Linked DNA regions of Homo sapiens: all the other regions are linked to region 1. Evidence: fine-mapped expression QTL. A gene starts in region 1. Each other region holds a variant in brackets. All regions are shown on one strand. Distances are between the middles of the regions.

The links. PIP is the estimated chance that this variant, and not a neighbour inherited with it, causes the effect. A credible set is the group of variants that fine-mapping cannot tell apart.
Region 2: its variant is the best candidate, but not a certain one, in a credible set for the expression of PIK3CD in whole blood (INTERVAL, PIP 0.78).
Region 3: its variant is the best candidate, but not a certain one, in a credible set for the expression of PIK3CD in aorta (GTEx, PIP 0.86).
Region 4: its variant is the best candidate, but not a certain one, in a credible set for the expression of PIK3CD in prefrontal cortex (GTEx, PIP 0.79).

The regions. Positions count from the first base shown.
Region 1 is chr1:9,647,289-9,655,570 of GRCh38, reverse strand. It overlaps PIK3CD (phosphatidylinositol-4,5-bisphosphate 3-kinase catalytic subunit delta), which reads right to left and starts at 3,840. Exons shown (of 24, transcript NM_005026.5): 1 at 3,769-3,840. PIK3CD-AS1 (PIK3CD antisense RNA 1) reads left to right here and starts at 985. Exons shown (of 2, transcript NR_027045.1): 1 at 985-1,373; 2 at 1,528-2,961. RefSeq lists enhancers at 1,598-1,647, 2,788-2,857 and a silencer at 3,038-3,927.
Region 2 is chr1:9,746,158-9,754,439 of GRCh38, reverse strand. CLSTN1 (calsyntenin 1) reads left to right here. Exons shown (of 19, transcript NM_001009566.3): 5 at 2,759-2,967; 6 at 4,527-4,676; 7 at 4,794-4,979. Among named protein-coding and RNA genes, the nearest start is that of PIK3CD-AS2, 63 kb to the right of the region's middle. The variant G/A (reference allele first, on the strand shown) is at 4,135.
Region 3 is chr1:9,677,636-9,685,917 of GRCh38, reverse strand. All of the region lies in intron 1 of PIK3CD (phosphatidylinositol-4,5-bisphosphate 3-kinase catalytic subunit delta), which reads right to left. All of the region lies in intron 1 of PIK3CD-AS2 (PIK3CD antisense RNA 2), which reads left to right. Among named protein-coding and RNA genes, the nearest start is that of PIK3CD-AS2, 5.8 kb to the left of the region's middle. The variant G/C (reference allele first, on the strand shown) is at 4,264.
Region 4 is chr1:9,721,298-9,725,297 of GRCh38, reverse strand. PIK3CD (phosphatidylinositol-4,5-bisphosphate 3-kinase catalytic subunit delta) reads right to left here. Exons shown (of 24, transcript NM_005026.5): 15 at 3,711-3,854; 16 at 3,438-3,537; 17 at 3,145-3,323; 18 at 2,942-3,054; 19 at 2,692-2,770; 20 at 2,006-2,173; 21 at 1,206-1,329; 22 at 877-1,022; 23 at 362-494. Among named protein-coding and RNA genes, the nearest start is that of PIK3CD-AS2, 36 kb to the right of the region's middle. RefSeq lists a silencer at 27-235 and an enhancer at 3,109-4,000. The variant C/T (reference allele first, on the strand shown) is at 1,951.

The sequences.
Region 1 (8,282 bases):
TGGAAGGGGAACTTTCACAGGCCCTAGGGACTGTGCTGGCCCTCAGGGAGGGGAGAATGGCCGTTATTTTGGTAGGACCCACAGCAAGTCACAGTGTTTAGCTGCAATAAAAAAGGGGGGGGGGCGGGGGGTTCCTGGGTTTTTTATTTTTTCCATCTTGAAACTGGCAGCATTTCTGCTATGATTGCCGGGGATTTCCACCAACCAAACTAAAGACAACTCAGTCTTAGCGTTAACTGTAGGGAGAGAGGTGGCGTTTTGCCACCTTCGCTATTTATGAAACACTGTCACCGGTACCAAGATGACAATATTTTCCTCCCTTTCAAACAAGCCAGGCTCTGCCATCCTCCAGTGGATAGGGCCCTTCCTTGTCTCCTCCATCCCGGGGTACTGCTTCTAGACCATCTTCTCTAACAGCTTTGCTGAAAAACACACTTGTCCCCTGGGGAGTAGCTGAAGCCACCCTCCTGGCTGAAAGAGCTTTTTTTTCTTTTTTTTTTTTTTGAAATGTAGTCTCACTCTGTTGCCCAGGCTGGAGTGCAGTGGCACAATCTCAGCACACTGCAACCTCCACCTCCCGGATTGAAGCGATTCTCCTGCCTCCACCTCCCAAGTAGCTGGGATTACAGGTGCTCATCACCACGCCCAGCTAATTTTTTTTTTTTGCATTTTTCGTAGAGACAGATATTCACCATGTTGGCCAAGATGGTCTTGAACTCCTGACCTCAAGTGATCCGCCCACCTCGGCCTCCCAAAGTGCTGGAATTACAGGCGTGAGCCACCGCGCCCAGCCTGAAAGAGCCTTCTGAAGGTCCCACGTTAAGGAAACATTTGCTGGGGCCCCAAACCCCACCATCAGGCCCACACCGGCAGCTGGCCTCAGGGAGGGCGGGAACTGCTCTCTACACAAAAATGGTTTTGAAAATAACCCAGCCAAAGGGGAATTGCTTCATCCGTTGCACATTCACTTCTCCCTTTCACTGTGCAATTTAAGTAAAACAAGATGAAGCAGGAACCGACTCTCACCATCCCCACTCCCACCTCCATGAATTCCATCGGACAGTTGTGCGAAAGCGGGCTGGCTTTCGCACAACCATTGGTGGACTGTCTGTCCTGTAAGCCCCCCAGGGGCTGATGCCCTCCCAGTCTGCCTGCCCTGTTCTTAGCACAGCCCCTGGCACCCCGTGTGATCTCAGGAAACACTTGCTAAACATGGTATCGGAGGAGAAACGGAGCCCACAGCTTAGTGCAAAGACCTGGCGGCGTGGACTGAGGCTGCAGAAACGCAGAAACGCGCTTTTCCTGCCAGAAGGGGACATCTGCGTGGTCGGGAGTACCTCTGGGGCACGTGCCCTAATTCCAGAAACATCTAAGTGAGTAGTGTGGCCAATGTAGTCTGTTTCTGAACAGGGGCTGAAGGGCGGGGGAAGTGGGGCTCAGAAGGAGGCTAGCTTAGTTGTCTCTGGAGCAGGCAACTGGGTTGTTGTATTATGTTTCTCAGAGATGGGCTCTTGCTCTGTCACCCAGGCTGGAGCGCAGTGGCACTGTAATAGCTTACTGCAACCTTGAACTCCTGGCTTCAAGTGATCCTCCCGTCTGGGCCTCCCAAAGCACTGGGATGACAGGTATGAGCTACCGCTCTCAGCCACAACTGGGTTTTAAGAGCACTCCTCCAGCCCACTCCAGTGTCTTCCATCATTCTGTGAAAGCACCAAAAGAGGACCAAGCCCAGGAAGCCGCCAGCAGGCCTCTCACCAGCCAAGATGGCTGGAATCCTAATATCAAGAAATGAAACTCCAGCAGGCCATGGAAATGCTAAGGGGTTGGCATTTCTGCTCTAGAGAGAGCCAAAGAGAAAGCTCTATTTATATCTCCTTGCGTTTGGTCGCAGCCTCATCAACCAAAAGAACCTTCCGCCCCACTCAACACATCAATCAAATTGGGGAGGGGGTGTGAACAGCAGCAGCGGGTGTTACAGAGGAGTCTCAAGGGTATCTTAGAGGGTGCCTCTCTGAACAGTCGTCCCCTCCAAATCCCCCCCAAGAGAATTACTAGGACATTCTCCTTCCCCCGCAAGCAACGGCACCCCCAGATGATTAAACGCGCTGGCGTCGGAAAGAGCTGGGATCCTGGAGAAACTACTTGTAAACTGTGTGGGTTGGTGAGTTATTTAACTTTTCTGAGCCTTCGTTTCCTTAACTGTAAAATGAAGACAACACCACTCAGCTCCTACAGTTGTCCAGCTGAAATCACCTAGGTAAGAACGACCAGTTCTTTGGGGAGTAATGTCCCGATGGTACCATTCAATTGTCAAGAACACCAAGGCACCGTCAGGCACCCGGGCGGTATCCCACTCTCCTGGAAGAGAGCAGGGGGTTAGCCCTTGGTTTCAAAGTCCCTAGGGAGCAGTAAACCTTCCCCTCCGAGAGCCCTGAGAGAGGAATAATTGCCCCTTCCCACTCCAACCCACGGCACACCCGCCCACATCCACGTGCGGCTGTGCCCAGCATCTCAGAGGTAGGACTTCTCAGGAATCGGCGGGAAGAAGCCCCCTTGATGGAGTCTGGTGGGGTTCAAGATCTGCAGGTCCCACCTTCCAGGGAACACCTGCACAAGTGAGACCTGCCCGATCAGCCCCGCGCTCCATCCGCAAACTGGGCAGATCCCAAGGGTGCCACGCGAGGACCCTGCACCTTGGCCGCTCCAGGGCGCCCCCCACCCGCGACCCCGGAAATCTCGCCCCTACCTGCTTCACCCTCGCCCCACCCACAGCGCACTTTTCGGGACCTCCCAGCGGCCCTTCCCCGGTTCTCTGGACCCCCGTCTCCCCGCCCTGCAACGCCCCCATCCTGGTGCCCACGAAAGGTCGTCCCAGTTCCCCTCTTCTCTACCTCAAAGGAGGAGGTGCAAATGAGGAAGCCTAAATAAAAACAGGAAACTCGATTTTTTTAAAAAGCCTCATTCAGGCTGAATTACGGGTAAGAGTATTTTTTTAAAAAGTCCGGAAATGCAAAGCTGGGGGCGGTTTTGCCGGCGTAACCCCGGCTCGGCCGCAGATCCGGAGCTGATCTCGCCTGCGCCGCTGCAGCAAACGCGGCGAGCAACGCGGGAGGCCCGGGACTGGGAGGCGGGGCGCGGGTCCACGAGCCGGGAGGAAGCCCCGAAAACTTCCACCCCGGCCCCTCTGCAGCCCCGCTCCCCACTTGCCCAGGCTGGGAAGGGCGCACAGGACCCGGGCGCCGGCGAACTGTGCGCAGCCCTCTCTCCGCGCCAGGGCACTCGGGCGACATCACCAGCGCGCTCTCTGTGGACCCCGCTGCCGTACAGAGGAGGCCCCTGGTCCTCTAGTCAGCGCTCGGAGCGGGCGCACGCGCTGAGCGCTTCCAGTATCCTCGCGCCTCAGCCGGCGCACCGGAGGCCGCACCGCCGCTGTGAGCGCAGCTGAAACCCCGCTGCCGGGCCAGGCGGGCAAGGCGCGCAGTGCAGGCGCCGGGGAGCTGCGCACGCCCCTCTCGGCGGGCCCACGGGGGACGGCCCCGGGCCTCTAGGGCAGCCCCCGCCCAGGTCCCAGCAGCCCGGCCCCCGGGGCTCCCAGGACCCGGCTCGCTAGACTCGGGGAGGCGCCCAGGGCCAGGGCGCACGGGCTGTGTGTGCCGGAGAGACGCCCGCCAGCCAGCCCCGCGCCCCCGAGCGCAGCCGCAGCTCCCAAAGCCCCTGGCCGCGGTCCTCTTCCCACCTCCCCTGACGCAGCCAGCGGCGATCGCTTACCGTCCCGGCGCAGCTGGCAGGGCTGGGCGGCTCTGCTCGCGGCCGCTCGGAGCGACTGCGCTGGGCGCGAGTGAGCCTCGAGGGAGGGAGGCGGGGCGCGCCGGGGCGCCCCGCCTGCCGCCAACCCGCACACTCCACTTCCCACTTTGTTTCCTTTTCACTTGCAACAGGAAAAACAACAGGTCCTCCAGGGCCTCGCCTTCCCCCGCCGCCCACACTCCCCAGTTCGCCTACCGCTAGAGGGGCATCATCCCAGGTGCCTCTGGAAGCTGCACCTTGCTTGCCCTTCTACAAAACAAGTTTTCTTTTTATGCAAAGGAAAACAACGAAATAAAGGTCCTAGGCGCCTTTAAGCGCTCCGCCTTCACGCAGGAAAGAATTTCAGCAGGAGCGGGAGAAAGGCTGAGAGCAGGAGAAGAAGAGGGGGTAACCTGCAGCTCTAGGCACCCAGGGACCCCAAGCGCCATTGCGAGGTGACCAGTGTTGGGGCTCAGGACACACACCCAAAATGTGACTATGGGAGACCAGCGTGTGCCACCCCAAAATATACTTCTTCGCCATATTTTGAAGGGATTATTCTTAGAAACTGCAGGCACAGGAGTAGATCTGAAAAGCTGTCCTTTTGTAAAATGATTTCTATCTATAAAGAAAATCTCCAGGCCTGGCACTGTGGCTCACTCCTGCAATCCCAGCAATTTGGGAGGCCGAGGCGGGAGGATCACTTGAGCCCAGGAATTCAAGCCAGCCTGGGCAACATAGGGAAACCCCCGTCTCTACAAAAAAATTAAAAATTAGCCAGTCGTGGTGGTGCACACCTTGTAGTCCCAGCTACTCGGGAGGCTGAGGTGGGAGGATGGCTTGAGCCAGGGAAATGGAGGCTGCAGTGATCCATGATGGCACCACTGCACTCCAGCCTGGGAAACAAAGTGAGACCCTGTCTCAAAAACAGAAAAGAAAAGGAAAATCTCCATTGGTAAAGTATTAGTATCAGGCGGAGGGCTGCTCAGAGCTAACTTTTCTTACCTGAGAAATTTTATCCGCATAAGAAGACAAGCTTCATTCACCTTACCCTCTCTCCCCTCACTCTCCCTTAACTTGTGTACCACCTCCCCAGGATCCCAAGCCTCTATTCCTTTTTTTCTTTTCTTTTCTTTCTTTTTCTTTTTTCTTTTCTTTTTTTTGAGACAGTCTTGCTCTGTTGTCCAGGCTGGAATGCAGTGGTGCCATCTCGGCTCACTGCAATCTCTGCATCCTGGGTTCAAGCAATTCTCCTACCTCAGCCTCCCAAGTAGCTGGGATTACAGGCACACGCCACGACACCCAGCTGATTTTCATGTTTTTTTGTTTGTTTTTTGTTGTTTTGTTTCTTTGTTTTGTTTATTTTGAGGAATCTTGTTCTGTTGCCCAGGCTGGAGTGCAGTGGCGTGATCTTGGCTCACCACAGCCTCAGCCTCCTGGGTTCAAGCAATTCTCCTGCCTCAGCCTCCTGAGTAGCTGGGACTATAGGTGCACACCACCGTGCCTGGCTAATTTTTGTATTTTTAGTAGAGGTGGGGTTTCGCCATGTTCACCAGGCTGGTCTTGAACTCCTGACCTCATGATCCACCCGCCTCAGGCTCCCAAAGTGCTGGGATTACAGGCGTGAACCACCACACCTGACCCAAGCCCTATTCCTTTCTGAAGGAATGTTTCCTGTCCCTTGTAGGATGTTATATGAGCTTTATTCATCTGAGCCTTCATCCAGTCTTGTATTTTGTGGGATTCCCATGCATAGGTCTTAGTTACACATGGTTTTTCTCTTGTTAATCTGCCTTATGTAAATTTAATGTGGAGCCCAGCCAAGGAATTTAGAGGGTAGAGGGAGGCCACTCTCTCCTCCCCTACAGCAGGCATGACTGAGAGGCTCGGGGAGACAGCCCAGGGCCTAAGTCCCTCCTTGCTCAGCCCTGGGTTGACAGCAGCGACCTCCAGGCTTTGGTGGACCAAGAGTATGGGGGTGGTGGGTGAGCCCACCCCTGAGATTACAACAGTGGCTTCATGCCCTCCCAGGATAGGGTGAAGGGTGAGCCAGTCAATTGCTTAGTGAAACAATGGCTTAAAGGACCCTCTTCAATCCAGCCTGGGAAGTAAAGCAGCTGTTATTGGTCCCTTGGACAGATGAGGGATCTGAGGCTTAGAGAAGGACTTTTTCTACCCAAGAGATGCCTGGGCCTCTCAGGACCACCTTGGGCCCCGTGCTGGCTCCAGAGGCTGCAATAAGCAGAGGCCCAGGCCAGGCATGATGGCTCAGGCCTGTAGTCCCAGCACTTTGGGAGGACGAGGCTGGAGGATCCCTTGAGGCCAGGAGTTTGAGACCAGCCTGGGTGATATGGCAAAACCCAGTCTCTACAAAAAAATAGAAAAAATTAGCCGGGTTTAGTGGTGTGCACCTGTAGTTCCAGATTCTCGGGAGGCTGAGGTGGGAGGATCACCTGAGCCCTGGAGGTTGAGACTGCAGTGAGCCATAACTGTGCCACTGCACTCCAGCCTGGGTGATGGAGTGAGATTCTGCTTTGAAAAAAAAAGAAAAAGAGCGAGAGAGAGGCCCAGAGGCCGTTATTCCAGCCAGGAAAGGGGAGAGGGCTTGGGTAAGATGGAGTGGCTTGCTCAATTGTTCCAGTTTTTTTTGTTTTTGCTTTTTTTGTTTGTTTGTTTGTTTGTTGAGACAGGGTCTTGCTCTGTCACCCAGGCTGGAGTGCAGTGGCATGATCTTGGCTCACTGCCACCTTGGCCTCCCGGGTTCAAGCGACTCTCATGCCTCAGCCTCCCAAGTAGCTGGGACTGCAGATGCGTGCCACCATGGCTGGTTAATTTTTGTATTTTTTAGTAGAGACGAGGTTTCACCATGTTGGCCAGGCTGGTCTCACACTCAGGCCTCGGGTGATCTGCCCGCCTCAGCCTCCCAAAGTGCTGGGATTACAGGCATAAGCCACTGCGCCCGGCCTGGTCCAGGTTTTCTAAGATGCAGGCTGCAGATTCTGTGTTCTCCAGTGGACACTTGCAGAGGAGCCAGGAAGGACCACAGGTCCCTTTTGGAAGGAACGTTGGGCCTGTCCCCAGGAATGCACACTAGTATATCCTTTCTAGTGGAGTGTCTGAGGCTCACAGCCTCTTGCTTACCCCAGGCTCAGATTACTGAGCCTTAGCAGCGGTCTCTAGCCTGTTTCAAGGATGCCAAGAGCCAGAAGACAAATGGACGTTTCAGAAGGAACTCTGACGGCCGAGTGAGCAGCCTGTCCTGAGGGAGCGGCCCGTCCTAAGGTTTCCTAACACCTGGCCTTAACCATGCTTTTGCTAGGCTGCACTTTCAACGCTGCCCTCTGGTCTTTAGAGTTTGTTTCAAGAAACAGCCAGATGACGAATGGTTTTGCATCTTCCAAAGGAATTCTTCATTGAATATGTATTTGCTGACAGCAATTCAAATCATGCTTTTTACTATGCAAGATGCTGCCGGGAGAATGGAGGCATGCCAAGTTGTCAAGCGCTAAGATGTGCCTTACATATTGTTCTCTTTGATCCCCATGAAGGAAACCAGAATATGTCCCCCCAAAATATACCTCTTTGACGTAAATATTTTTGAACTTAAGGCAATTAAGAAGCAGCAGGCAGATGAAGAGATCTTTCTATCATCTCCCCTTTTCTGCCTGTTAAATAAAATTTGCAGGAGGCCATTGATTGGGACAAGACCCCTGTACCGGGTCCAACAGACCAAACCAATATGGAGTCATTCATGGTAAATGAAACTAATTAACTTAAGAGTATATACATGTAGCAAATAGCTGAGTTTTTGTCAGTTATAGCAGCTGAGCTTTAGTAGATCTTAGGTGGCCAACTGATTCAAACAAAGCAAACACTGTAACCAATTAAGCTCTATAGCTTACTTCTGTTTTACATCCATAAACACTCTGACTGTGTTACTGGCTGAAGCCCTTTGAACCTGTCCTGGTTCTGAGGGACTCCCAATTTTAGACTCATTAGTAGGCCAGGATGACTCACACCTGGAATTCCAACACTTTGGGAGGCTGGGGCTAGAGGATCAAGACCAGCCTGAGCAACATAGTGAGACCTCATCTTTACAAAAAATAAAACATTAGCCAGGCATGGTGGCATGTGCCTGTAGTTTTAGCTACTTGGGAGGCTGAGGTAGAAGGAGGATCCCTTGAGCCCAGAAATTCAAGGTTGCAGTGAGCTGTGATCTCACCTCTGCAATCCAGCCTGGGTGACAAAGTGAGACCACGTCTCTAATAATAATAATAATAATAATAATAATAATAATAATAATTAGAATCATGAATAAAAGTTAAGATCTGTAAACTAGATTTGTTGTAATCTTAACTTTTAAAAGATGATTATTGTTTTATTATTATTTTGAGACAGGGTCTCACTCTGTCACTCAGGCTGGAGTGCGGTGGTGCAGTCTCAACTCACTGCAACCTCTGTCTCCCAGGCCCAAGTGACCCTCCCATCTCAGCCTG
Region 2 (8,282 bases), 99 kb before region 1:
TTACAGGTGCCTGCCACCACGCCTGGCTAATTTTTGTATTTTTAGTAGAGACGGGTTTCACCATGTTGGCCAGGCTGGTATCAAACTCCTGACCCCATCATTCACCTGCCTCGGCCTCCCAAAGTGCTAGGATTACAGGCGTGAGCCACCACACCCGGCCTAGGTTTTTAATAAATGAATGAGTGAATAATTTTATCACACCAAATACTCTATTAAAGAAGTAAAGGCCCTACATTAAAAATTGAAAAAGTCTGCTTCTCCCTTAGGAAGGTTATTTTGTTGTCATATTTATCTTTTGCTGTAATTCCTAAGGGCATAAACTTAATCATTGTTGGCCAGGTGCAGTGGCTCACACCTATAATCCCAGCACTTTGGGAGGCTGAGGTGGGAAGATTGCTTGAGCCTAGGAGTTTGAGAGCAGCCTAGACAATGTAGGAGATGCCATCTCTACAAAACATAAACAGCCAGGTATGGTGGCACATGCCTGTGGTCTCAGCTACTTGGGAGGCTAAGGCGGGAGGATTGCTTGAGCCCGAGAGGTTGAGGCTGCAGTGAGCCATGATTGTGCCACTGTACTCCAGTCTGAGTGTCAGAATGAGACCCTGTCCCTAAAAAACAATAACAACAAAAATTGGCCAGGCACGGTGGCTCACGCCTGTAATCCCAGCACTTTGGGAGGCCGAGGCAGGCAGATCACCTGAGGTGATTTTCACCTGAGGTCAGGAGTTCATGACCAGCCTGGCCAACATGGAGAAACCCTGTCTCTACTAAAAATACAAAATTAACCAGGCATGGTGGCACGCGCCTGTAGTCCCTGCTTCTCGGGAGGCTGAGGCAGGAGAATCACTTGAACCTGGGAGGTGGAGGTTGCACTGAGCCAAGATCACATCATTGCACTCCAGCCTGGGCAAAAAGAATGAAACTCCGTCTCAAAAAAAAAAAAAAATTAGTCACTGCTGGTGGAAGTAGGCTGGCTCGCTGCCACAATCCTGAGTGTGTTGCTGCACCTCCTGCCAGTTAGGAACTGCAGTTGTAGCAGAGAGGGCTTTGGACAAGACAACATAGAACAGGGGTCGCCATACCTCAGGACGTGGGCCAGTACTGGTCCGTGGCCTGTTAGGAACCAGGCCACACAGCAGGAGGTCAACAGCATGTGAGCGAGTGAGCATTTCTGCCCGAGCTCCACCTCCTGTCACATCAGCAGCGGTATCAGATTCTCACAGGAGCGCGAACCCTGTTGTGAACTGAGCATGCCAGGGATCTAGGTTGTGCGCTCCTTATGAGAATCGACTGCCTGATGATCTGAGGTGGGGCATTTTCATCCCAAAACCATCCTCCCACCCCCATCTGTGGAGAAATTGCCTTCCATGAAATCAGTCCTTGGTGCCAAAAAGGCTGGGGACTGCTGGTGTTCTCAAGTCCAGTGTCTTCTACAATTAGATTGTAAGCTCTAGTCTTTTCTAGAGCTCTAGTCTTTTCTCCACCACTTGCTAGCCCTTTGGCATTGTGCAAATTTAATTTTGTTGAGTCTGTTTCTTTTTCTTTTGTTTTATTTATTTATTTATTTACTTATTTTTTGAGGCAGAGTCTCGCTCTGTCACCCAGGCTGGAGTGCGGTGGCACAATCTCGGCTCACTGCAACCTCCACCTCCAGGGTTCAAGCGATTCTCGTGCCTCAGCCTCCCAAGCAGCTGGGATTACAGGCACGCTCCACCACACCTGGCTAATTTTTGTATTTTTGGTAGAGACGGAGTTTCACCATGTTGGCCAGGATGGTCTTTAACTCTGACCTCTGGTGACCCTCCTGCCTCAGCCTCCCAAAGTGCTGGGATAGGTGTGAGCCACCACACCCGGCCCTGAGTCTCAGTTTCTACTTAGCACATCTACTAAAGAAGGGTATGTGGGCGAGATGGTGTCACATAACCCATTGTGAGGGTCAGACCGATGGCACTGGGATGAGGAGGCTCATGGTGAGCAGAAGGTGCAGTGCCCCAGTGAGTCTCTTCTCTTTTTCCACAGTGTAATGTTATTGTTTCCCTTGAAAAGGTCAGATTTTGACCAAAGTCCTTGACTGATTCAGAAGCATGCCCTGACCATTAGCCCTTGAAACCTACAGTTTTTTTTATTTGTAGCCAGGTCTGATGACACCCTAATTTTCTTGATAACTGAGCTGGGGTATTGGCAGGTGGCAACGGCCTGCCTCTCCTGAACTCTTCCATTTGTTGAATCAGGACCAGGTGATGCCATGGACTCCAGCCTATTCCCTAGAAGTAGGACAGAATTCGTTTGAACTCTCAGAATCAAACCATTTCATGCTTTCTCTGTTTCATACCCCTTCTTCCCTTGGCTCTATTTTTTTTCTGGATTTTGCTACAAAATATGTTTCAACTTTATAATTGGAGAGCAAACAGACGTCTGGTATTGTTTATCTCCCTTCTGCCTGTCTTGTCCCATATTGTCAAAAAAAAACACCCAAGTCTCTTTTATTTTAGATGATTGGTTTTTTGCTTTATTCTTAGGATATGGAAGAATCGACCCAAATCCCTCTTTTAACTTTCTGTTATCTCCACACTTGAATGAAAAGCAGTGAATAGCTTGTTTAATTTTTGACTTCATCATATGAATTTCATGAAACAAGGTATCAGAAACAGGAAATTTTAAAGTAGGGCAGAATTGGGTAAACACACATACACACTCTCTGTCTCTCTCTCACACTGAAAACAAGCAGAAAAATATTTTTCTCCCTCCCTTTGTCCAGAGCAACTGTTCATATTCAGGTGAACGACGTGAATGAGTACGCGCCCGTGTTCAAGGAGAAGTCCTACAAAGCCACGGTCATCGAGGGGAAGCAGTACGACAGCATTTTGAGGGTGGAGGCCGTGGATGCCGACTGCTCCCCTCAGTTCAGCCAGATTTGCAGCTACGAAATCATCACTCCAGACGTGCCCTTTACTGTTGACAAAGATGGTAAGAATCGAGGAGCCGGCTTTTCAGCTAGGTAGACAGTCCCTGCTAACCCCACTGACTTTACACCCCAGCTTCTGTGCTTCGTCAGAACTTCATGGAACTCACAAGTTGGAGACCTAACCTGGTGTGTGTTTGCTTTTAATTGTAAAAACATTTAAGTTTCTACTTTGTTCCCTGACAACTTCTTCTCTGGAACCTGTAAGTCCTGTGTTCTCTTGTGGGGCTCACCTCTTTTTTGCTTTCCCACCAAAATCAAATAAAAATCCTCCTACCTGACATGGCTTTGTTTTTTTAATCTTCTTAACTTTCAGTCCACATGCATCTGAATGAGACTGACCTTTACATTTAGTTTGTCTCATTTTCTGTTCTCCATTAAGTTTTTTGTTTTTGTTTTTGTGGTTTTTTTTTGAGACAGTTTCTCACTCTGTTCCCCAGGCTGGAGTACAGTGGTGCGATCTCAGCTCACTGCAACCTCTGCCTCCCGGGTTCAAGTGATTCTCCTACCTTAGCCTCTCGAGTAGCTGGGATTACAGGTGCCCACCACCACGCCCAGCTAATTTTTTGTTGTTGTTGTTTGTATTTTTAGTAGAGATAGGGTTTCACCATGTTGGCCAGACTGGTCTTGAACTCCTGACCTCAGGTGATCCGCCCACCTTGGCCTCCCAAAGTGCTGGGATTACATGTGTGAGCCACCGCGCCTGGCCATGTTCTCCATTAAGTTAGAATCTCCTGTGACATCTTTTTTTTTTTTTTTTTTGTTTGAGGGAAGGTCTTGCTCTGTCGCCCAGGCTGGAATGTAGTGGTGCAGTCACTGCTCACTGTAACCTCGAACTCCTGGGCTCACGGGATCCTCCCGCCACAGCCTCGCTAGTAGCTGGGACTGCAGGCACACACCTGTAGTCCCAGCTATTTGGGAGGCTGAAGTGGGAGAATCGCTTGAACCCAGGAGGCAGAGGTTGCAGTGAGCCGAGATCAGGCCACTGCACTCCAGCCTGGGCAAGAGAACGAGACCCTGTTCCAAAAAGAAAAAAAAAGATAATACAGTGTTTCCATTGTTAATCAATGCACGGTCTAGAATCTTTGATGGAATTATGGACATTGCAAACACTTTCCAGAGATCTATACTCACCACGTTCAAAAAGCAGGCTTCTGTTCTAAGCAGGTGGG[G/A]GTAGGAAATCTCTCTTTCTTTTAATATAGTAAATGTTTGATCAGCGATCTTATATTTAATATTTGAGGTACTTGAATTATTATTATTTTTTAATCCTCTGAATGTATGTAAACAGTTAAATCTTAATGTAAAGCCCAATGTAACACTGTGAGAGTAAGTGGAGACTGAGCTGTGTAGCTCCGTCTCTTCTGTTGAAACTCTTCAGGATGGATTTAGTGCGTGTTAGGGCTCAGGGAGGACAGGTTGAGGGTTAAGCATCCCAAGCATATGTTTATTTCTGGCTGAGTATTTACAGGGCTTAAAGCCTATGCATTTTGTCTTTCCGCCTAGGACAACAAAAGTAAAACCAGCATGGGTTTTGGCTCTCACTGTTGTTTTTGCCCTCTGTAAGGTTATATAAAAAACACAGAGAAATTAAACTACGGGAAAGAACATCAATATAAGCTGACCGTCACTGCCTATGACTGTGGGAAGAAAAGAGCCACAGAAGATGTTTTGGTGAAGATCAGCATTAAGCCCACCTGCACCCCTGGGTGGCAAGGTGAGCTTCATTCTCTCCCCTGCGCTCACATCTGCTCTTAAAACTGATGTATGCGGCAGCAACCTAGAGTGTGTGTTTTCCTTCTCTCTTCCCCTGCTGACTTGTGGACCAACACAGGATGGAACAACAGGATTGAGTATGAGCCGGGCACCGGCGCGTTGGCCGTCTTTCCAAATATCCACCTGGAGACATGTGACGAGCCAGTCGCCTCAGTACAGGCCACAGTGGAGCTAGAAACCAGCCACATAGGGAAAGGCTGCGACCGAGACACCTACTCAGAGAAGTCCCTCCACCGGCTCTGTGGTAAGGAGACCAGGCGTTCTTGCATCCGGCTGGCTTTGGTGAAGGTGGGAGGGACCTTTACAACTGGAAATACTTGTGTGTGTTGTGTTCATAATTATAAACTGTGACAGAGAATCTGCATTTCTGAAGTGAACTTTGCTGCCTTGCTGGCTAGTTTTCATACTGGATGGGCTTCGGGGGTGGGGCAGGGGGTGGACATCAACTCCTAAACGTCTATTCAACATGTTGTGTATATGTGCATTTTAAGAACCACTGGTGGCCAGATGTGGTGGCTTATACCTGTAATTCCAGCACTTTAGGAGGCCGAGGTGGGAAGATCACTTGAGCCCAGGAGTTTGAGACCAGCCTGGGCAACACAGCGATACCCCATCTCTACAAAAAATTGAAAAATTAACTGGGGATGGTGGCATGGACCTGTAGTTCCAGTTACTTGGGAGGCTGAGCGGGAGGATCACCTGAGCCCGGGAGGTTGAGGCTGCAGTGAGCCGTGATGGCACCATTGCACTCCACCCTGGGCAATAGAGTGAGACCCTGTTTTAAAAAAAGAACCACTGATTTGAAGGAAGTATTTCTCCAGCATACTCTGAGAATCATCCAAAAAGGGCTTCTATAGGAGTACATGGAGTGAGTTTTACATGAAATGAGATGTTTACTTACGAATTGAAGACAAAGGCCAGGGCATGGGGGCTCATGCCTATAATCTTACCACTTTGGGAGGCCGAGGTGGGCAGATCACCTGAGGTCAGGAGTTCGAGACCAGCCTGACCAACATGGAGAAAACCCTGTCTCTACAAAAAAAACAAAAACTAGCCGGGCATGGCGGTGCACGCCTGTAGTCCCAACTACTTGGGGGGCTGAGGGAGGAGGATCGCTTGAGCCCAGGAGGTGGACGTTGCAGTGAGCCAAGATCACGCCGCTGCATTCCAGCCTGGATGACAGAGTGAGAACCTGTCTCAAAAAGAACTGAAGGAAAAATATAGGTAATACAATAGCTTTTGACAAACATGAAGTAGAAAATCAGAACTAAAGATAGCCACATCTAACTTAGAATCTCAATAGATTTTCTATATCACAATATTGTGTGGAGAAATTGAGAGACAGAATTACTGGGAAACCCACCAGAAGGCTAGGTCTCTCTTTACTGTCAGCTGCGGATATTTTTCTGGTTTATCTAAATGAAGAAGAGGTGAGGTATGGATGGCTGTCATGGAAGATGTTGAGGGAAGAACATTTAGTTGACTGGTGATAAAATCCCACTAAATGAAGCAGCGTCTTCATAAATTGGAAGGGTCTTTTGTGTTTCAAAAAGCTTTTGTGAAACAGCTTTTCAGGGAGCATTTTCTTAAACTGATGAGTCTTTTCACTAGCCTGATAACAACCATGAGATTTAGGTTACTGGTTTTCTTTTTTTTTTTTTTAGACAGAGTCTCACTCTGTCACCCAGGCTGGAGTGCAGTGGCGCCATCTCGGCTCACTGCAAGCTCCGCCTCCTGGGTTCACACCATTCTCCCGCCTCAGCCTCCCGAGTAGCTGGGACTACAGGCACCTGCCACCATGCCCGGCTAATTTTTTTGTATTTTTAGTAGAAACGGGGTTTCACCGTGTTAGCCAGGATGGTCTCGATCTCCTGACCTCGTGATCCGCCCACCTCGGCCTCCCAAAGTGCTGATTGCAGGCATGAGCCACCGCGCCCGGCCACTGGTTTATAATTGAAAATTATCCAGATCACTTGAGGTCAGGGGTCTAAGACCAGCCTGATCAACATGATGAAACCCCCGCTCTACTAAAAATAAAAAATTAGCCAGGCGTGGTGCGAGGTGCCTATACTCCCAGCTACTTGGGAGGCTGAGGCAGGAGAATTGCTTGAACCCAGGAGGCTGCAGTGAGCCAAGAGTGTGCCACTACTCTCCAGCCTAGGTGACAAAGCTAGACTTTGTCTTAGAAAAAAAACAATAAATAAGAAGAAAATTATCATGTGGTAAATAAACCAAAGTAGAAAACTAGACATTATGCTGCCACAGTCCAATGATGAGCATATGGGGGTGTTTGGCAACTCTGAATCCAAATATTCATAATTGTCACCTAAATATATTTAAGTAAGGAGGTCTGGCACATTTTCTGTTTTAAACCATGCATGTAAGTATAATATATAAAATTTATTCCGTCTCTCATTTCATGGTATTAAGTGAATTTTTTTTCAGCAGAATAAAGTTAGGAAGAATAGAAATAATTTGAGTGCTTACTATGCACCAGGTACTTTTTTTTTTTTTTTTTTTTTTTTTTTGAGACAGTCTCCCTCTGTCGCCCAGGCTGGAGTGCAGTGGCGCAATCTCACTCACTGCAACGTCTGCCTCCTGGGTTCAAGCGATTCTCCTGCCTCGGCCTCCCAAGTAGCTGGGATTACAGGCATGTGCCATGATGCCTGGCTACTTTTTGTATGTTTAGTAGAGATGGGATTTCACCATGTTGGCGAGGCTCGTCTCCAACTCCTGACCTCAAGTGATCCACCCACCTCGGCCTCCCAAAGTGCTGGGATTATATGCATGAGCCACTGCGCCTGGCCTTACTCCAGGTACTTCTATGTGTGTTTTAGCTTAATGTTCCCAACAAGTCTACGAAGTAGGTGGGTATTGACCTTGTTACAGAGGAATTAAACAATTGAGACTAAAGCAGGTTAAGTAGCTTGCCCAAGCCCACATATTCAGGAGCTGAGGTTCTAGTGTGTGTGTGTGGTTTTTTTTTTTCTTTTGAGACAGAGTCTCACTGTCGCCCAGGCTGGAATGCAATCGTGCTATCTTGGCTCACTGCAGCCTCCACTTCCTGTGTTTAAGTGATTCTCCCACCTCAGCCTCCCAAGTAGCTGAGATTACAGGCATCTGCCATCATGCCTGGCTCATTTTTGTATTTTTGTAGAGACAGAGTTTCACCATATTGGCCAGGCTGGTTTGAACTCTTGACCTCAGTTGATCTGCCTGCCTCAGCCTCTCAAAGTTCTGGGATTACAGGCGCAAGCCACCACGTCTAGCTTCAGGAGCTAAGATTTGGACCAAGGTCTTCTGTTACTCAAGAGGCCAGGCTGGTCCAGCCAAGGCCTGCTGCTCCGAGTAATAGCTTAGTCAAGAAGGAGCTTGCAAAATCTTTTCCTGTGGACAAAAAAAAATTTTTTTAATTTGAACATGGCAATACATAAGAATGGTTGGAAAACATTTTTTATGTTTTTTGACTTAGTAATTTCATTTCTAGGAATTTATTTTAAGGGAATAATCATGGAGACACATAAAGCTGTGCATGCAGGTGAGGTTT
Region 3 (8,282 bases), 30 kb before region 1:
ACACCACTGCTGAGTGGGGACAAGACCAGGAAGGCTAAAGTCAGAAAAAAATCAGAGGCAAAGCCAGGCACGACTGAGGGCGCCTGTAGTTGCAGCTACTCACAGGCTGAGGCAGGAGGATCGCTTGAGTTTGAGGCAGGAGGATCGCTTGAGTTTGAGGCTGCAGTGCGCTATTGATAGCACCTGTCAATAGTCACTGCACTCGAGCCTGGACAACACAGTGAGATACTCATCTCTTTAAAAAATTTTTAATTATAACTGCTGGGCGCAGTGGCTCACGCCTGTAATCCCAGCACTTTGGGAGGCTGAGGAGGGCGGATCACCTGAGGTCAGGAGTTCGAGACTGGCCTGGCCAACATGGTGAAACCCCATCTCTACTAAAAATACAAGAATTAGCCAGGTGTGGTGGTGCATGCCTGTGATCCCAGCTACTCAGAAGGCTGAGGCACGAGATTCGCTTGAACCTGGGAGGCGGAGGTTTCAGTGAGCCCAGATCGAGCCACTGCACTCCAGCCTGGGCAACAGAGCGAGACTCCATCTCAAAAAATAAAAAAATAAATTAAGTATAACCAAAAAAAAGCAACTAAAGACAACAACCAAAAACAAACAAACAAACAAAAAAACCAGTTACATGTTTGCTTTTAATTCTATTAGAATAAACAGGAGGGCTCCAAAAAAATCCTCAAAGGAGTTTCCATATTTACTCACATATTCCACCCTTGATATTTTTATTCTCAAAGCACAAGAATGAGGGACCTAATTATAAGAGGCCCATGCTCTCCTGCCATCCTTACATATTTTCATTTATCTTTGAGACTCTCACCCCTGGGTAACTCAAAAAGTGGCTCATCTGTAGTTAAAAAGCAAAGTTAATTAGCATCTGGCACTTCCTTCTTTCCTTCCTCAATTCTCCAAGCTTAGACTAAAAGTCTGTCTTAATTGAGGCTTCCTGAGTTTGTGACCTGGGGCAGGAGTTGAGGGGTTGGGGATATAAGCAGAGAGAGAAAAAAAAAAAGCTTGGGTTTGCATTGCTCATTCTTTTTTCTTTTTTCTTTCTTTTTTTTTTTTTTTTGAGACAGGGTCTCACACTGTGACCCAGGCTGGAGTGCAGTGGCGCTATCACAGGTGCTTGACCTTGTGGACTCAGGTGATCCTCCCACCTCAGCCTCCCGAGTAGCTGAGGTGTGTGCCACCATGCCCAACTAATTTTTAATTTTTGTAGCGATGAGGTCTTGAGGTCTTGCTATGTTGTCCAGGCTGGTCTCAAACTCCTAGGCTCAAGGGATCTGCCTGCCTCAGCCTCACAAAGTGTTGGGATTACAGATGTGAGCCATCACACCCAACTGCATTGCTCTTTCTTTTTTCTTTTTTTTTTTTTTTTGAGACGGAGTCTCTCTCTGTCGCCCAGGCTGGAGTACAGTGGCACCATCTCAGCTCACTGCAACCTCGGCCTCTTGGGTTCAAGCGATTCTCCTGTCTCAGCCTCCCAAGTAGCTGGGATTACAGGGGCCTGCCACCATGCCCAGCTAATTTTTGTATTTTCAGTACAGATGGGGTTTCATCATGTTGGCCAGGCTGGTCTCGAACTCCTGACCCCAGGTGATCCACCCTCCTTGGCCTCCCAAAGTGCTGGGATTACAGGCGTGAGCCACTGCGCCCAGCCTGCATTGCTCATTCTTTCAAGTATCAGCCAAAAAGCACGTGTGGCTCGTGGTTGCAGGGACTCCTCCCATTGAGAGATGGCCTCTGTGTCCCCTCCTCTTAAATCTAGTGGGCTTGTGACTGCCAAGAGAGTATGGCAGCAGAGATGCTAAGTGACTTGAGAGGTGAGGCCATGAGAAGCCATGCCGCTTCCTCCTTGGTTAGAATGCTGGCTCTTGGAATTCTGAGCATTAAGTTAGAGGTCTGACTACCCTGACGCTGCCATGCAGTGACACAACCCAAGCAAGCCAGAAGGAGAAACCATGTGAAGGCACTCAAGTTGACAGTCCCACCTGAGCCCAACCTTCGTCATCCCACCCAGGTACCAGACATGAGTGATGAAACTTCCAGATGATTCCAGACCCCACCTGTTCAAGTTGTTACCAACCCCTTGAGAGTCTTCCCAGCTGACTCCAGATATCATGGGAGCAGAGCCAGGCCGTCCTGCTGAGCTCTGTCGGAATTCCTGGCCCCTGGGACCGTGAGCATCACAGTGTTGCTTTATACCGCTGAGCTTGGGACAGGCTGTTATGTAGCAAGAGATCCCTAGAACTCTGAAGATCTCATAAAATCCTCAAAACAACCCCACTAAATAGTTACAATAGTCATCTTCATGAGGAAACTGACGCCGAAGCCGTGCAGGAAGTGACAGAGCAGGAATCAGAACCCACCTGGAACCACCACCTAAAACTGCTTCTAACACCAAGTTGTCCCACTGCTATAAGGCACAAGGCTCGTTTTTTTTGTTGTTGTTGTTGTTGTTTTTATTTTTTTTTTTTGAGACAGAGTCTCACTCTGTCGCCCAGGCTGGAGTGCAGTGGCGCGATCTCGGCTCACTCCAAGCTCTGCCTCCCGGGTTCACGCCATTCTCCTGCCTCAGCCTCCCGAGTAGCTGGGACTACAGGTTCCCGCCACCACACCCGGCTAATTTTTTGTATTTTTAGTAGAGATGGGTTTTCACCGTGTGAGCCAGGATGGTCTCAATCTCCTGACCTGGTGATCCGCCCGCCTCTGCCTCCCAAAGTGCTGGGATTACAGGCATGAGCCACCATGCCCAGCCTGTTTTGGTTTTTTGGTTTTTTTTTTTTTTTTGAGACAATGTCTCCCTTTGTCACCCAGGCTGGCATGCAGTGGTGCCATCTTAGCGAGACCCAGCCCCCCAAAAAAAAAAAAAAAAAAGGTCCAGGGCCCAATCCCAGTGGGGAAAGCGTTTGACACGTCCCACCATGGCACTGGGTCACCCCTATGATGGGTTACACCATCTAACAGAAGTCAGCAGAGACATCTCCTTTCCTGGTTGGCCCATGAGTGTCCCTGAGGGACAGGGTCAGTTCCCACTAAAATGGACATCCATTGTTACACATTTAAAACCCCAGTGGTGGCTCATGACTGTAATCACAGCACTTTGAGAGGCCAAGGAGGGTGGATCACCTGAGGTCAGGAGTTTGAGACCAGCCTGGCCAACATGGTGAAACCCTGTCTCTACTAAAAACACAAAAATTAGCCACCTGTGGTGGTGTGCACCTGTAATCCCAGCTACTCGGGAAGCTGAGGCAGGAAAATCGCTTGAACCCAGGAGGCGGAGATGGCAGTGAGCTGAAATCGTGCCACTGCACTCCAGCCTGGACAACAGAGTGAGACAGCGAGACTCCGTCTCGAAATAAATAAATAAATACCCAGGCCAGACGTGGTGGCTGACGCCTATAATCCCGGCGCTTTGGGAGGCCGAGGTGGGCAGATCACCTGAGGTCAGAAGTTCGAGACCAGCCTGGCCAACATGGTTAAACTTCGTCTCTCCTAAAAATACCAAAAATTAGCCAAGTGTAGTGGCATGCCTGTAATCCCAGCTACTCAGGAGGCTGAGACAGGAGAACCCTGGAGGCGGAGGTTGTAGTGAGCTGAGATGGCGCCACTGCACTCCAGCCTGGGCAACAAGAGTGAAACTCTGTCTCAAATAATACTAATAATAAAATAAAAAATAAAAACGCAGCCTTGGCTAGGTGTGGTGGCTCATGTCTGTAATCCTAGCACTTTGGTAGGCCAAGGCAGGCAGATCGCTTGAGCTCAGGAGTTGGAGACCAGCCTGGCCAACGTGGCAAAACCCTATTTCTACAAAAAATACAAAAATTAGCCAGGCGTGGTGGTAGTCCCAGCTACTCAGGAGGCTGAGGCAACAAGATCACTTGAACTCAGGAGGTTGAAGCTGCAGTTGGGAAAAGCTGAGATTTCATCACAGAGAACTCATAGCTGGTCCAAAGCTAAGTCCTGGGCAGACTGAAATCCCTTCCAGAACAAGCTGGCTCATTCTCCAAAGCTAAGTCCCGGGGAGACTGCAGTCCCTTCCAGAACAAGCTGGATCACTCTCCATATGAAACTACATTCAGTTACTTCCGTCCTGAGATTCTCACCGTTGTGTAGCCCCCACCCACATTCACAGTCAATGTGACCTAAAGAATATGGCACAGTGATGGGATAGCACCTTTAACATTAGATTATAAAAGAATCCGGGCCAGGTTTGGTAGCTCACACCTGTAATCCCAGCACTTTTGGAGCCCGAGGCGG[G/C]GAGGCGAGCAGATTGCCTGAGGTCAGGAGTTCAAGCCAGCCTGGCTAACATGGTGAAACCATCTCTACTAAAAATACAGAAACTAGTGGCGCACGCCTGTAGTCCCAGCTACTCGGGAGGCTGAGGCAGGAGAATCGCTTTAACCCGGGAAGGGGAGGTTGCAGTGAGCCGAGATTGCGCCACTGCACTCCAGCCTGGGTGACAGAGTGAGACTCCGTCTCAAACAAACAAACAAAAAAAGCAGCAGCAGCAGCCAGGCATGGTGATGCATACCTGTAGTCCCAGCTGCTTGAGAGGGTGAGGCTGGAGGGTTGCTTGAGCCCAGGAGCTGGAGGCTGCAGTGAGCTCTGATTGTGCCACTGCACCTCAGCCTGGGCAGCAGAGACCCTATCTCTAAAATTAATTAATTAATTAATGAAAAAATTAGGTTATGAAACATCACTGGGGCTTCAGTCTTGGGCTTATACACCCCCTCCCCTCCCCTCCCCTCTTCTCTCTCTCTCTCTGTCTCTCTCCAGTGCTCTCATCTCTTGCTCTGGGGTAAGCCAGTGGCCATGCTATAAGGACACTCAAGCCACCCTATGAAGAAGCCCACATGAAGAGGAACTGAGATATCTGGCCAACAGCCAGCCAGTCACTGAGCCTGCCAACCACGCTGTGGCAGGTACCTCCAGCCCCAGACACCTGCAGCCTCCACTGAAAGCTCAATGGCAGCCTCATGAGACCCTGGACCGGAACCACCCAACGAAGCGGCTCCTGTATTCCTGATTGACAGAAACTACGGGATCATAAATGCTTGCTGTTCAGTCTGCCAAGTGTTGGCGTGATTTGTTAAACAGCAACCAGTAACTAATACGCCACCCATGGCTGCCGCGTTCCTGCTGTGGGGCCAGCACTATTCCATGCTTAGAGGCTCCATCAATACCTGTGATGGACTAAATGGTCAGTACAAACAACAGCTCCTCTGTAATGGTATGAGGCAGACAGGTTTCTAAAGGCAATATGCTAAGGTGCAAACTCAACCCCAAAAGACCACATAGTGTATCATCCCATTTATATGAAATGTCCAGAACAGGCAAATCCATAGAGACAGAAAGCAGATTAGTGGTTGCCAGAGGCTGAGAGATGGAAGAAAAGTAGAGAGTAACTGCTAATGGTGTGAAATCTCTTTTTGGAGTGATGAAAATGTTTTAATTTTTTTTTTTTAATAGAGACAGGGTCTCACTATATTGCCCAGGCTGGTCTTGAACTTCTAGGCTCAAGTGAGTTCAGCCTCAGCCTCCCAAAGTGCTTGGATTACAGACATGAGCCACCATGCACAGCTTAAAATTTATGATGCTGATGGTTGCATAACTGTGAATATACTAAAAACCACTGAGGCGGGGTTTGGTGACTGACACCTGTAATCCTAGCACTTTGGGAGGCCGAGGTGGGAGGATCACTTGACACCAAGAGTTTGAAACCAGCCTAGGCAACATAGCAAGACTCCATCTCTACAAAAAATTTAAAAATAAAAATAAAAACCATTAGGCCAGGCATGATGGCTCATGCCTGTAATCCTAGCACTTTGGGATGCCAATGCGGGTGGATCACCTGAGGTTAAGAGTTCGAGACCAGGCTGGCCAACATGGTGAAACCCCATCTCTACTAAAAATACATAAAGTAGCCCGGTGTGGTGGTGGGCGCCTGTAATCCCAGCTACTCGGGAGGCTGAAACAGAAGGATCACTTGAACCCGGGAGGCAGAGGTTGCAATGAGCCGAGATCACGCCACTGCACTTCAGCCTGTGTGACAGGAGTGAAACTCCATCTCAAAAATAAAAACGAAAACAATAACAACAACAGCAACAAAAAACCATTGCATTGTGCACATTAAATGAATTGTATGGTATGTGAATTCTAGCTCAATAAAGCTTCTTATGCTAAAACATGACGAGGAAGAAGAGGAGGAGGAGAAGAGGCAAAGTCACTGGTGCCCAAGGAATGGCACCAGGAGTGGTCTCCAGGAAGGCTGGCCACCTGTAGGGCTGGGAGAGCTCTGTGATGCTGACATCAGGGGCCTTCTTCATGCCTGAGAAACAGGACATGGGCTAAGGGCGGCTAACCAAGGCCTGGGAGAATATTGAGAGGTAAACAGGCGATGTGGGTGTGGGGCGCTCAGCCTACTTGGCCAAAGGGTGAGTTCTTGCTAATTTCACAGGGAGAGCCTGACTGGTCTCAAGCACCTGAGGCCCAGCATGAGAAGTCAACATCCCTGACTTCTCATCCTCTATAGAAATTTCCCCCAGACCAGGCGCGGTGGCTCACGCCTGTAATCCCAGCACTTTGGCAGGCCAAGGTGGGCGGATCACCTGAAGTCAGGAGTTCAAGACCAGCCTGGCCAACACCGTGAAACCCCGTCTCTACTAAAAATACAAAAATTAGCCAGGCATGGTGGCACGTGCCTGTAATCCCAGCTACTCAGGAGGCTGAGGCAGGAGAATCACTTGAACCTGGGAGGCGGAGGTTGCAGTGAGCCAAGATCGTGCCATTGCACTCCAGCCTGGGCGACAGAGCAAGACTCCATCTCAAAAAAAAAAAAAAAAAAAAAAGTTTCTCCTGACTACCCGGAAAGAAGGTTCACACACCCAGCTCTCGCAGGCATGCTTCCCCATGTGCCTAAGCCAAGGCCCTTCCCACAAAAGGGGCCTTACACATGCCCCAAAGGATGGTCCTCTTCCAGAAATGAGCCGATGATACAGTGGAGAGTCACCCAAAGACGCAGGAAAGTCGATCCTTGCTGAAAGCCCCAGAAAGGGGCTGTAAATTTAGGACAAAGGATTTAAATGGCAGGGGCAAACTTGTGCAATGTCTTCTTTAAGAGGTGGTCAAGAAAGAAAATAGAAACAGGTTCAAGACAGACTTTGAATAGGTTGCTGGCAAGTGTGTCTTACAGAGGTGTCACAGGGTCAGAATGATTTGCCCCTTTGAGGTTGGTTTCAGAGTCAGAATCTCATACGACAGAGAAGCTAGAGGTTGGACCTAAACAGTCCTTCCCTGCACACCAACAGAGTCTGTGGATGAAAGAGCCTTTTTCTGGAGAGAGTCCATGCTTTTCTGCAGGTTTTCAAAGGGATTTAAAATCTGAGACAGGTTAGGAACCACTGGGTGACGTGGTTCTGGGGTAGGTGGAAGATGGAGTTTTTTTCTTTTTCTTTTTTGGAGACAGGGTCTGGCTCTGTCACCCAGACTGGAGTCCAATGCCATAATAGGCTCATGGCAGCCTCAACCTCCCGGACTCAAGCGATCCTCCCGCCTCAGCCTCTCGAGCAGCTGGGACTAGAGGTGTGTGCCACCATGCCTGGATAGTTTTTGTGTTGCTGTTTTTTGTAGACACAGGGTTTCCCTATATGGCCCAGGTTGGTCTCAATTGATCCTCTTGCCTTGGCCTCCCAAAGTACTAGGACTACAGGTGAGAGCCACAGTGCCCGGCCGGATTTTTGTTTTTTTGTTTTTGTTTTTTTTTTTTTTGAGATGGAGTTTCGCTCTTGTTGCACAGGCTAGACTGCAATGGCGCGATCTTGGCTCACTGCAACCTCCGCCTCCCGGGCTCAAGTGATTCTCCTGCCTCAGCCTCCCAAGCAGCTGGGATTACAGGCAGGCGCCACCACACCCAGCTAATTTAGTATTTTTAGTACAGACGGGGTTTCACCATGGGCTGGTCTCGAACTCCTGACCTCAGGTGATCTGCCTGCCTTGGATCTCTCAAAGTGCTGGGATTACAGGCATGAGCCACCACGCCCGGCCCAGATTCTTTTTTTTCTTACTCTGCCAAATCTATATTTTATAAACTTTTAATAACTAACTTGTGTTGATTCCATGTAATTAAAAACGTACAGTATGCATGAATAAACACATTTATAAAACATATGGCATATATATTTAAAACATCCGCATGCACGATCTGGAAGATCACGGCCTATAATTCCCAGATGCAGCCTCTGCTGTAATTTTTTTTTTTTTTTTTTTTTTAGACAGGG
Region 4 (4,000 bases), 72 kb before region 1:
ACAGGCGTGAGCCACCCAGCCTGGCCAAAAAATATCTTTTAGAAGGCAGAGGGAGCCAGCGCTCACGCGGCCCCCTAGTGGACACCTGAAAGCCCCGCAGCCCTGAGCACAGCACCCCAACCAGGAGAGGTCACTACACATCTGCCACTGAGTGGAACCATGCCTGGGCGGCTCAACTCTGGTCCAGCCACTTTCCCCTCCACCGCCCACCAGCTCCACTGCTGGGTCCTGGGACGGCATGAGGCACACACAGCTCAGTGCCCTTTGGGGCCTACTGCATTCAGGGCCCTCCTAGGTCACATTGCTCGGGGGCAGGCCTTGGAAGTCCACTGGCGACAGCAGTCTCCTGCCCGGCACATACCTTGAGATACTGGATGTCTTTGGAGCAGCTGAGCTCAGGCAGGCCTGCCGCCCGCATCAGGGCAAAGAGGTGGAGGAAGAGAAGCCCGTGGCGCCGCAGGATGGTGTAGGCCCTTTCACAGTAGCCCCGGAACCTGCAGGTAGGGGACAGAGGAAGTGAGGCTCTGGGAACTCCCAGCCACAGGCCAGAGGGCCGCTCTGCATCCAACCAGCCCCTTCCCCAAGGACACCTGCCCTTGCCCTGATAATGGGTGGACACAAGGCCTCCAGTTCTGCTAACTGACCCCCGTGCCCCAGCCAGCCTCCTGCTACATGACCCACAAACCTGCCCACATTGCCCAAAAGGGGCACTGCAGGGTGGAGCAGGGGCATGTTCCAAACCCATCAACAGTTGGGGTGAGGGGCCAGGTGTGGGGTTGAGACCTGAGCCCCATCCTGCACCCTGCCTGGGAACCTCTGCCCTGTTCCCTGGGGCCCCACACCGAGGGGCATCTGGTGGGGCTCAGGCACTCTCACCGTTCAAATTTCTCACTATTATTAGTCTTCCCCTGCTGAATCACATGGACAAAGTCGTAGGTGAGGATGAATGGGACACGCTCGCGGTTGATTCCAAACTTGGTCTTGAAATTCCCCAGAAAGTGGCCAAAATCAATGTGGAACAGCTGAGGGGAGGGGAGAGGAGGGGGAGGATTGAGAAGGTGTCAGACAGGAGAGAATCCAGGGGAGACAGGAAGCCAGCAGGGCTGGGGGACCCCTGCCACAGAGCTGTGTGCTAGGCAGAGGGGCCAGCAGGCTGGGGCCAGAAGCCAAGTCCCCACAGCAGCCGCCAGCACCAGCCCCTGTACCTGCCCACTCTCTCGGATCATGATGTTGTCGCTGTGCCGATCGCCAATGCCCAGCACATATGTGGCCACACAATAGCCAGCACAGGAGAGGGTGAACTCCTCAATGGCTCGATCCAGGGCCTCCCTGGGTGGGGAAGATTAAAAAGCATGGCCATACCATTTTGCAGCTCCGCCTATCAAGAGGTGGGTTATTACTCCCTCTCCCCTTGAATCTGGCCCTGTGACTTGCTTTGACCAACAGAACATGGAGGACACAATGCTGGACATCGCTTGCAGACGCTATTCCAGAGCCAAGGCATGAAGACCCCTGCAGATCTTGAACCCCATACCCTCAATACAGAGCCACGGAAGGAAGGTGAGGCTGCTAAATGAGGAGACCACATGCAGAGAGGCATCACAGACAGCTGGCGCCAAGGCCCCAGGAATGAGATGGGTTATCTCAGACCCCACTGGCCCAGTTAAGGCACCAGATGAGAACAGCTGCATGAGTGATTATGTGGAACCAGCAGAAAAGCCACCCGGCTGAGCCCAGCCCCAGCTGCAGATCTGTGAGCCAATCGTAAATGGCTGTTTTTTAAAGCCCTGCGCTTTGGATGGTGTTGCATAGCAAGAGACACTGATACTTGGGGAAGAGAGACCTACCTCACCCCAACCCAGACACAGGCTGGTCCTCAACTGAGCCAAGTAGCCACAAAGATGGTCTGAGGCCCCTCCCCGCTCCTTTGTTCTGACAGGCGAGGCCCTC[C/T]CACTCCACACCTCTTGGAAAGGAGAGGGAACCTATCCCTGGGCCTGAAACCCACCCCGGGTTCTTGGACTTCAGCCAGTTGAGCAGGGCATCCTTGTTGAAGGCGGCTGTGGCTGCCATGTTGCTCTTGTTGAGTTGGATGTTGGCGATGGTGTCTGAACGGAGTACCACCTCAATGAGGCCTGTGCGGTCCCCGGTGGGGAGGCAGCCATAGGGGGTCATCCTAGGCAAGGGGGAAGAGGGACGGGCAAATGGCATGGTCAAGGGCTGTCCCTGAGGCCACTTGAGCCCCAGAAACTCATGGTGCCCCAAAAAGCCACAGAAGATGCTGCTGCCCACATTGCTAAAAAGCAGGTGAGAGATGCTGGCTCCTTGGAGATGCCGGCACCAGCATCTGAGGTGCAGAAAGCACCACAGCTGAGTTCACATTTGCTTGGAAGAGAACCAGACAGAGGCCTTGGGAGAAGACGCCACTGCTTCCCAAGATGGGCTGGGGAAGCCAGGGGCACCTGGGCAACTAAAGCAACAGAGCAGGGTACACACTAAGCCTCAGGAGCAGCCTTCACGCATCCTGCTGCCCGCCGCCTCCTGGCCTAGAGTTAAACCGCCTCCGGGTCTTCCTAGGAAAGCCCTTTCCCCGGCTGAGATGGTCATGCCACCTTCAACAAGGACCCCTCCAGGGGCACAGACTCCCAGGCTGGGCACAGACACCAAGGGACGATGTGGGGTGGGGGTCCTCACCTCAGGTCCAGCCCCTCCTGCTTCCACAGGACGTCCATGAGCTGGATCATCTGCAGGGTCAGCATGTCCTGCCGGAGGTCTGTGCCACCGGCCGGTGGGAGGAGAAGCGTGAGTTTCTGGTAGGTTCTCTGCTTCCAGCTACACCCAAGCCCTTAAGTCCCAGGATTCTGTCTTCTCCACCCCCACTCTAGGAGCACCCCAGGACCCCCCAGGGCAGTACAGGCGGGGTGTGGGGAGGCCAGGCCCTCACCATCCCCGTTCTTAAAGATGATGCCCACGCTGCCGCCGCTGCCTGCCTCCTCGTTGCTGTACATGATCCACAGGGGCTTCATCTTGGAGTCCATGAAGGTGCACTGCTCCACGCTGCCAGGCCAGAGAGCGGGCAGTCAGCAGGGGCTCCTCTACCGGCCTCCCAGGGGTGGGAGGAACCCTTGTGGCGGGGCTTGGGCTCACCAGACTTCAGCCAGCAGGGTGCTGGGGTCGAGTGGGGACTGCAGGTGGGAGAGGGCCTCTAGGTAGGCCTCCTGCCGCATGCACAAGTGCATCAGCTCCTTGGTCTGGGGCTTGGGGGTCTTCTGAGAGCTCAGCTTGACGAAGTCATTCAGGGCCTTCAGTTTGCTCAGTGCTTCCCCCTGGTGGGCAGATGGGAGGGCGGCGGTGGGCAGGTCCCAGCCTCGACCCAGCCCTGGGGATTCCCAGACGCTCAGGGCCGCCCCCTGCCCGCCCCCCAGGGCCTTGGGCCTCACCTGCTTCATCAGCACCTTCATGTGGTGGGTGCTGCCCCTGCAGTAGGCCTCCAGGATGAGGCCGAAGCGCAGGGCCACCGACGGCACGTGCATCTCGGAGCTGGAAGGTGAAGGGAGGGCTGAGCCTCACCAGGCAGCACCACGCAGCCCCTCCCGCCCAGCAGGACCTAGCGAGGCCAGGACACCCAGGCCTGCTGGAAACGTCCCCAGTGGCCTTCCAGGGAGACTCAGGGGCTGGGATTCCCACAGAACGGCTGGGGCAAGTCCCGCTACCGGAGGTGCCAGAAAAGGAAGTGGCCGATCTTGCGGTTGGCCAGGGCCCGGTCCAGCAGGAATTTGGTCAGCTCGCAGTCCAGGTAGGACTCGTACTTGAGCACCTGCACCAGCTGCAGCAGGTACTGGAACAGCTCATCGTCCCTGCAGGGAAGGAAGGCGCTGGGGCCTGGAGCTCCCCGACTCAGGACAGGAGGGAGCTCCCTCGGCAGCCAGAGGGAGGCCAGGCAGGAGGGAGCAAGCCCACGGGAAGGTTCAGGCCCCACCCAGAGCCCACGTCCTGGCAGCCA